Homo sapiens: one gene and its partner. The protein of the gene in region 1 interacts with the protein of each later gene in a pairwise test. Each region holds a gene or a part of one and is shown on either strand. Other genes may lie near its edges.

Evidence for each region.
Region 2: the proteins of LEMD3 (region 1) and SMAD1 interact in binary tests that used the Homo sapiens proteins (3 or more experiments, as listed by UniProt).

Annotation. Positions count from the first base shown.
Region 1 is NC_000012.12:65,239,030-65,242,856, reverse strand, and holds part of LEMD3 (inner nuclear membrane protein Man1), read right to left. Parts: intron 2,929-3,827; coding exon 2,827-2,928; intron 2,722-2,826; coding exon 2,619-2,721; intron 1,949-2,618; coding exon 1,770-1,948; intron 1-1,769.
Region 2 is NC_000004.12:145,512,670-145,516,496, reverse strand, and holds part of SMAD1 (mothers against decapentaplegic homolog 1), read right to left. Parts: exon of another isoform or gene 3,015-3,827; intron 2,060-3,014; 5' UTR 1,884-2,059; coding exon 1,484-1,883; intron 1-1,483. UniProt on the Homo sapiens protein: Transcriptional modulator that plays a role in various cellular processes, including embryonic development, cell differentiation, and tissue homeostasis.

The DNA of each region.
Region 1 (3,827 bases):
ACTCAACTGTTTTAAGGAGTAGAATAGGATGAGATCTGTCTTTTAAAACTACATATTTTAAAAATACATTGTTATGTGGAGACTCAGGTAAAAGCAGAAGTGAATGCAAGATGACCAGTTAGAAGGTTATTATTATATTATAGTTGTCTAAGAAGGAGAGGATAATGATGTGGGTAAGACAGGCCAACAGTGCAAGTGACAAGCGGATAGAATCAGGACATATTATGGAGTAGATATGACATGACCTGTTGAAAGGTTGGACAAAGAGGGATAAAGGAGAGATTAAGAATTATCCCTAAGTTTATGGCAGAATCAACTCAGGAAAGGTATCATTAACTAGACTAGGAACACTGAAGAGGATCAGGCTGGTGTACATGTTGAATCTGTGGTGCCCACCTCCTAGTACAGAAATATATAGTTGGGTACAAAAATCTGAAAACCAGACTTCATTCAAAATAAAAAATTTGGGAGTTATCCCAATATGGTAAATTAAGTCACAGCAAGACGATTATCTAGGGAGAAATGGCAGAGTGGGAAAAAAAAGATGGCCTTGAGAAACTCTAACACCTAGAGGTGAAGAAAAAGAGGATAATCTAGAAAAGGACTGAAGAAAAAGTCTGAGGTAGGAGAAAAAAAACAGAAGAAGGTGGCATCCCCAAATCCCAGTGAAGAAAGTTTCAAGGAGGGCTGAACTGTCAAACACTGTTAAGAGGTCAAGTAAAATAAGGAATTCTCTATTTTCAGTTTATAGGGAAACTGAAATGCATGCATCATTTAGAGGAAATAGTATAATCATTGGCAACATGAAAGCATCATTTTTTTAATTTAAGTTCTGGGATACATGTACAGGACATGCAGATTTGTTACATAGGTAAACGTGTGTCATAGTGGTTTGCTGCACCTATCAACTCAAACCCATCACCCAGGTATTAAGCCCTGCCTGCTTTAGCTGTTTACCCTGACAGAGCATCACTTTTATGCCATGTTTAAAGAAGCCTCTTATTCAAGCTTTTTCAAAGTGAAAATTAATTGGAGAATAAAAAAGGAGTGACTGGACTTTGTATTGCATGTCCAAAACAACTTACCTTTTCCACAAATACTATGTTTAGCAAATACTGACATACTTTTATAGGGAAAAAGTCATAATTTTCTGATGCATTGTTTTCTGCTTTTCTGTGTAGTAAAGGTTTGGGTACATATGACAGCCAATCTTCAAAACCCCCTATAAACTTACCCCTTTCTTATTTATACATGTTTTTGAAACTATGTAGGCATTAAGAAAAATATGGAAAGATACCCACAAAAGTTACTTGGCAGGAGGAATATATAAATAGAAAGGTCTTAGTAAGAGGAGGCAGGCAAAAACTGGAAAAAAAAGAGCAGTTAAAAAGTTATGACTTCACTTATATACATATATAGTTTATATATATTTTATTGTATATATAACATAAATTATGTGTCTTATTTACATAAAGAAATTAGATGAAAAGAATGCAGTTAATATATATAATACTAAGTTGCTTCATTAAGTGAAAAAGGCAAGATTCAAGGAATATTCATCTTTATTAAAGATAAACCATTTATGTTTGCATTAGCAAAGATAAAAGTGTGGAAGGATACATAAGAAGCTAACACTGATTCCTTCTACGAAACAGAACGAGAGAGTTTTGCCTTCATACATCTTTGAATTGTACTGTTTCACTTAACACATATTTGTCATTTTGAAAAATTAGAAGAAAATTACTTTTTTGATGTTTAAAAATACATACCTTGACCTTGCCATACTTTAGAAGGTATAACTAATATTTTGTCACAGGATGCAGAAGGCTGGATCCACCGCCAAACCAGAAAATCTGCACCACCTATTCTTCGTGTTTCCGTGCGAACTCTAGACTCATTAGCAGCAAGGAAGTCAACAGCTCTATCCCAGACTTTCTTCATTTTTTTCCTATCATGTGAACAAAATGGCAAATTTACTATCATCTTGGCTTGTCATCTTTTTGAAATATTAGTATCTGAGGTAATAGTTAACTCTAGCTGTTCTTACCACTACTCATGGAGTTTGTTCAAAGAAGATTTAGATGCCTATATCTCATCTCAGATTTTCTGAGTTTCAATTTCCAGAGCTAGAGCACAAACATCTGTATTTTTTTTCCCCAAAAGCTCCACTGGCTTTATGTGTTGCTAGGGTCAAGATGCTGCTTCAGGATATGGAATTATCTTTTATTTTCAAAAAGTTGCATTTTAGTTTTTACTTTAAAAGCTTCATTAATAATAAAGTTAGTACTTAAAAAACATTAGTAAAACACCAGCCACTGGCTGTCATCTATTTCTTTATCAAGATGAAATTAAAGGAAATAAGATGGAGACTAACAACAAAGAATCAAGAATGCCTAGGAATGAGAATGACTTAGAAATCCAGGTGTCACTCAAAATCAGGAGAATGGAAGAGAATTTAGAAAGAGAGTATAAAGTACAAAAACAAAGCAAAACCAAAAAAAACCTGTGCAGTAAGCAAGTCTAGTTGAGAAGGGTCACAGCTCTCAATATAATTTTCAATACTGCAGAAAGCACTTAAATTTTCTGATTTACTTGAACTCATAATGCTTTGAACACACCTGTCATGAGGCTGTATTAAGGAATCGCGTACATGTGGAATAGGCATGTAAGGTTGTAAATCTTTGTTTTCCTGGCAGGCTTCATTATGACTTCGTAAAACATCTAAAAATAAATAAAATTTACAAATGAATCAATCACTTGACATAATGTAGTTTAATCATGCAATGACTCTTCTAGAAATAGTTGAGATTCTTACAAATATCATACCTATAATCTTTACCACCATATCATACATCTGCCTTGTTTCCTCCTCTTCTTTTGTCCATCGATATTTCATGTAACGCAGAACGACACAAACCATCACTACACCTGTAATATTAATATACTTTGTATTTTAAAAATTGTGGTCAATATCATTCAATAATATTTCAGTGATTATTTTAACTGCCACAACGGAATGAACCTTCAAGACAGATGGCTGAATTAGCTATATAATTAAAACTACATAAAAAAATTTAATACTGAACATTTTCCAAAGATTCACTTTCTAGAAAAAAGCATTTCTTCCATTACACTGATAAGTGAACATTTAAATTCTAACTACTATTTAAAAATATATATATATAACTATGTTTCACAAACTTTTTTCCTTTGAAGCATAAAACGACTAGAAAAGTGAACCTCATGAGATTAAACATACTAAATCTTACTTTAAGTAAAATGAATTTTTCTTTTGTTGTTGTTGTTTTTGAGATAGGGTCTTACTCTGTCATCCAGGCTGGAGGGCAGTAGTGCAATCATGGCTAACTGCAGCCTCCAACTCCTGGGCTCAAGAAATCCTCCTACCTCAGCTTCCCAAGTAGCTGGGACTACAGGCACGTGCCACTATGCCTGTCTAATTTTAAAAATTTTTTTGTAGAGGTAGGGTCTATGCTTCCCAGGCTGGTCTTAAACTCCTGAGTGCAAGCAATCCTCCTGCCTCCCAAAGTGCTGGGATTACAGGTGTGAGCCACTAAAGCTGGCCAAAATGAATTATTTTTAAAGAAGAAAGAAAGAATGAAAAAACAACTCTCACCTAAATCCCTATTATCAATTAAAAAATGATAAAAATTTTAAATGTAGGTAAATTACATTTTAAAAACTAAATTTTAATAAACTTTATAACACTTTATTATTTAAAAATAAGCTCAATTTTTGTATTTTTCAATTCTACTTTCTAAAGTAGATTTCTATGTATATACTGACCACACTTGTTTTTCTGTGACAGT
Region 2 (3,827 bases), on another chromosome or scaffold:
TCTAGTAAGTGCAGGAGCTGTATGGAGAAACTTAAAAGTGCACTAAATAATATTATGCTCAAGAGCACAGTAGGCCAATCTTCCCCAAATGAAATCAACGAAATTCCAATAAATTCCCAAAGTGTTTTTCATAGGACTTAACAAGGTAATCCTAAAGTATATAATCTAGAAATCACAAAAACGTAATGTTGGATGAACATAAGTTGTACAAAGAAACTCCAATATTATGTAACATTTTTAAATATATAAAATATTACATATTGTCATGGACTCATACATATGTAATAACAGTATAAAAACATGCATGAGAATGATAAGCGTCAGATTCAGAACAGTGGTTACCAAAGGGAGCAGAATCAGAGGAGCAAAAACAGGGGTTCCAGTTTACACGTAATCTTTTATTTCTTAAAATGAGTAGGGGATACAGAGATGTTTGTTATACTACTGGTCTTTAAAATCTTTTTTTAAAATATGTCTTAAATATTCCACAAAAATACAGAATGCCTTTTATTTGAAAACCATGTTATTACATGATCTAGTTTAGTAATTCCTAAACACCAATCCAATAGCTACATCAGTAACACCTGAAGTACTTGTTAGAAACAAAGATTACCAGGCTATCCCAGGATCAGGATTTCTGGGAGGAGAGCCATGTGATTCTAATATACAGCCTTAGTAACCCAGGAACTATTAACAGCCAATCCATCAACAAAATTGGTCCCAATCGACAATGAGACATTTAAGTGCTTGAATATCTAATCACTTTCCAATGATCCAACTCTCTAGAATGTAGATTCTAACTTGAGGGCAAAACCGTATAAATTTTAAAATATATCCTTTACCATACCCTCCCAAAAGACTATACATGTAAAAACTGGGTATATTTTATAAAGTAATAGCATCAAATGATTCCATAGAAGGATATAATTCCTTCATATTCACCATAGGAAATATGCCACAGCAAAATTCCGCCAGAGATGATAAAAAGTGCTGTTCTTAAGTTCAGAATGGTTTAAGTCACTGGCAACTACCCTCATGATGTACTTCCCTTAAGCATATAGACAGCAATAATGCATTTCTTTCCTAATTTTCTTCCCTTAGAATACAATTCATAGCTAATTTTATCTAGAGAAATGCAGAGAACCATGTGAGACATAAAAAATAAATTTAGAAAGAAAACAATTTATTAAAAATTAGAGGTATTAGTACTGCAATGACAATTGTCATAGCCTGCTCCCAAGACATAATGTTAACTAGAGATGACTAAGCTGTTAAAATGTATGAAACACTCAGGGGCTTTCTCTCTTGCATTCACACAGACACACACACACACACACACACACACACACACACACACACACAGTTTCCCCAAATATTTTTAAATTACAACTAAAAACAAGCAAAGGGATTATTTTCATGTTCTAAACAACACAAATCTGGTACTGGGCACACAAAGCACATCAACATAAAATAACTCACTTACCAGGGCTTTCTACTCTCTTATAGTGGTAGGGATTGATGCAGACCTCCTTCTGCTTGGAACCAAAAGGAAACTCACAGCATTCCAGTGGTTTTAGTTCATGGTGGCTCTGAAGATCGGGCCAGCGCCACACACGGCAGTAAATGACATGAGGCAGTCCCTTCCGGTGGGAGACTTGCAGCCTGCCATCCAGAGAGCGGGGAATGGTGACACAGTTACTCGGTTGCCCTGGGCAGCTCAAGGCCTTTTCCAGTTCCTCCATGGCACCTTTCTTTTTCTTCAGTTTTTTCACCAAAGCATCAACAGCTTTCTCTGCCCATTTTTCTTCTTCATCGCCCTGTTTCCACCCAAGAAGTCTCTTCACAGCTGGACTTGTAAAGGAAAATAAACTTGTCACATTCATAATGACAGCACTAGTTATACTCCTTGGATATGGTGAAATAAAGCTGTCTCCAAATGCAAAAGGACAGCAGAAGAGATTTGTTTATTTACAGAGAAGTCTCTTTAACTTCTTAGTTTGAAGTCCAGAAGAGTAGAAATTACCATTCCTAGTGTTTAAAAAAGTAACCCAGTCAGCACCTACAAAACAAAAAAAGAATGGTTAGAATCATCTTTACCATACAACCACATTTATTAAGTAATCACCATGTGCTAGGTACTATTTTAAGTGCTTTTATGTAATACAGTATGCTGTGGACTGAATTGTGACCCCTAAAATTCATATGCGGAAGCCCTAACTCTCAGTATGACTATATTTGGAGATGGAGCCTCTAAGAAAGTAATTAAAGTTAAGTAAGGTCATCAGGGTGGGGCCCTAACCTGATAGGACTGGTGGTCTTAAGATTGCTATCTCCCTCCTCCAGCCTCTATGCACACACACTGAGGGTACTGCAAGAAGGTGATCATCTGCAAGCCAGGAAGAGAGCCCTCACCAGAGCCTGTATTGTCCAGAACCTTGATCTTGGACTTTCCAGACTCCAGAACAAAGAGAAAATCTATTTCTGTTATTTAAGCCACCCAGTCTATGATATTTTATTATGGCAACCAAAGCAGACTAATATATAGCATTTAATGCTTTTCACAATCCTTTGAGTTAGGTAATACAATTGCTGCCACTTTACAGATGAGTAAACTGAGAAGCAGTTTAAAAAGTAAGCCACTGTTAGCAAAAGCTCTGGGATAAAAGCAACAAAGTTAAAAAGCCCAAGTTCTCAAAAGATATTGTAATATTTTAGATTTAGATTCATTTATAACCTCTAAAAATATATTTCAAAACACCTCAATCAACAAAAACTGAAAGCAACAGGGAGAAAAAAATAGTCTAATATCTCTGTTTTTTTGGTTTGTTCTACAAATATTTCTTAGGCTAAAAGAAAATTCCTCTTATATAAATGTAGTAATATTTTAGGGTATTTCTTCAGTGAACAAGCCTGTGTCTATGGGCTACAGGACAAATAGGATAGGAAATACATCTCCTGCTTTAAAAATGTTGCTATTTATTGACATAAAAGGAATAAAGCACATGGACACATACTGTACCAAATTCTTTAGCCAAGTTGCCTCATTTAAACTGTTTACTCTTTAGCACATGAAAACATAAAATGTGAAAAAGGTTAAGGAGGTTAACTTTGTACAAACCCTGGCTAAACTGGAGTAGCACGTATCAGACCAACCTCCTTCCAAACAAACAAGCCAGAAAACAAACAAACAAAAGCCCAGCTTTTTAAAGGCATCAAAGAGGAACCAAGGCACTCAGGACTTGAGGGGGCCAAGATCCTGGAGAGAGGGGAAATGCAATGAAGTGAGCTGAATATTCGTCACCACTCTTTCCAGGGATTTGCCAATAGCTATGCTATGAGCAGCAAAAGGTCTAGGAGCCGAGCAGAAAGAGGTAACTAAGAGGCTAAAAACTAAGCAGAGCTTCTAGTAGCCTCATAGCGCTGAGGAACCCCAAAATAACAACACAGCAACAAATGGAGTTGAGGGCCTGCTGAGGAGAAACCCTGGTAAATAGTCTAGGCTTTCAATGGAAGCTCCTGGAGGAATATGCCCCAGTCTAAGGGCAAAAATGAAACGGATCAGTCTTTACAACCAATCTAGAATCATCTTAATCCTAGCCTTGGTCTAGGTGATGGGTATTGCTCTCTAACAGCTTGCCAGAAGAAAAACAAATTCTCTGTAGAGGAAGACAACATCAACCTTAGCCACTACAATTTTAAATTCACAGTGTATGCAATGAACCAAAAGTTATCAAGCATACCAAGAAACAGGACCAAATGATCAAAACAAAACAGAATAGAAACAGACCTAACGGGTGACCCAGGTAATGGAGTTACCAGAAACAGAC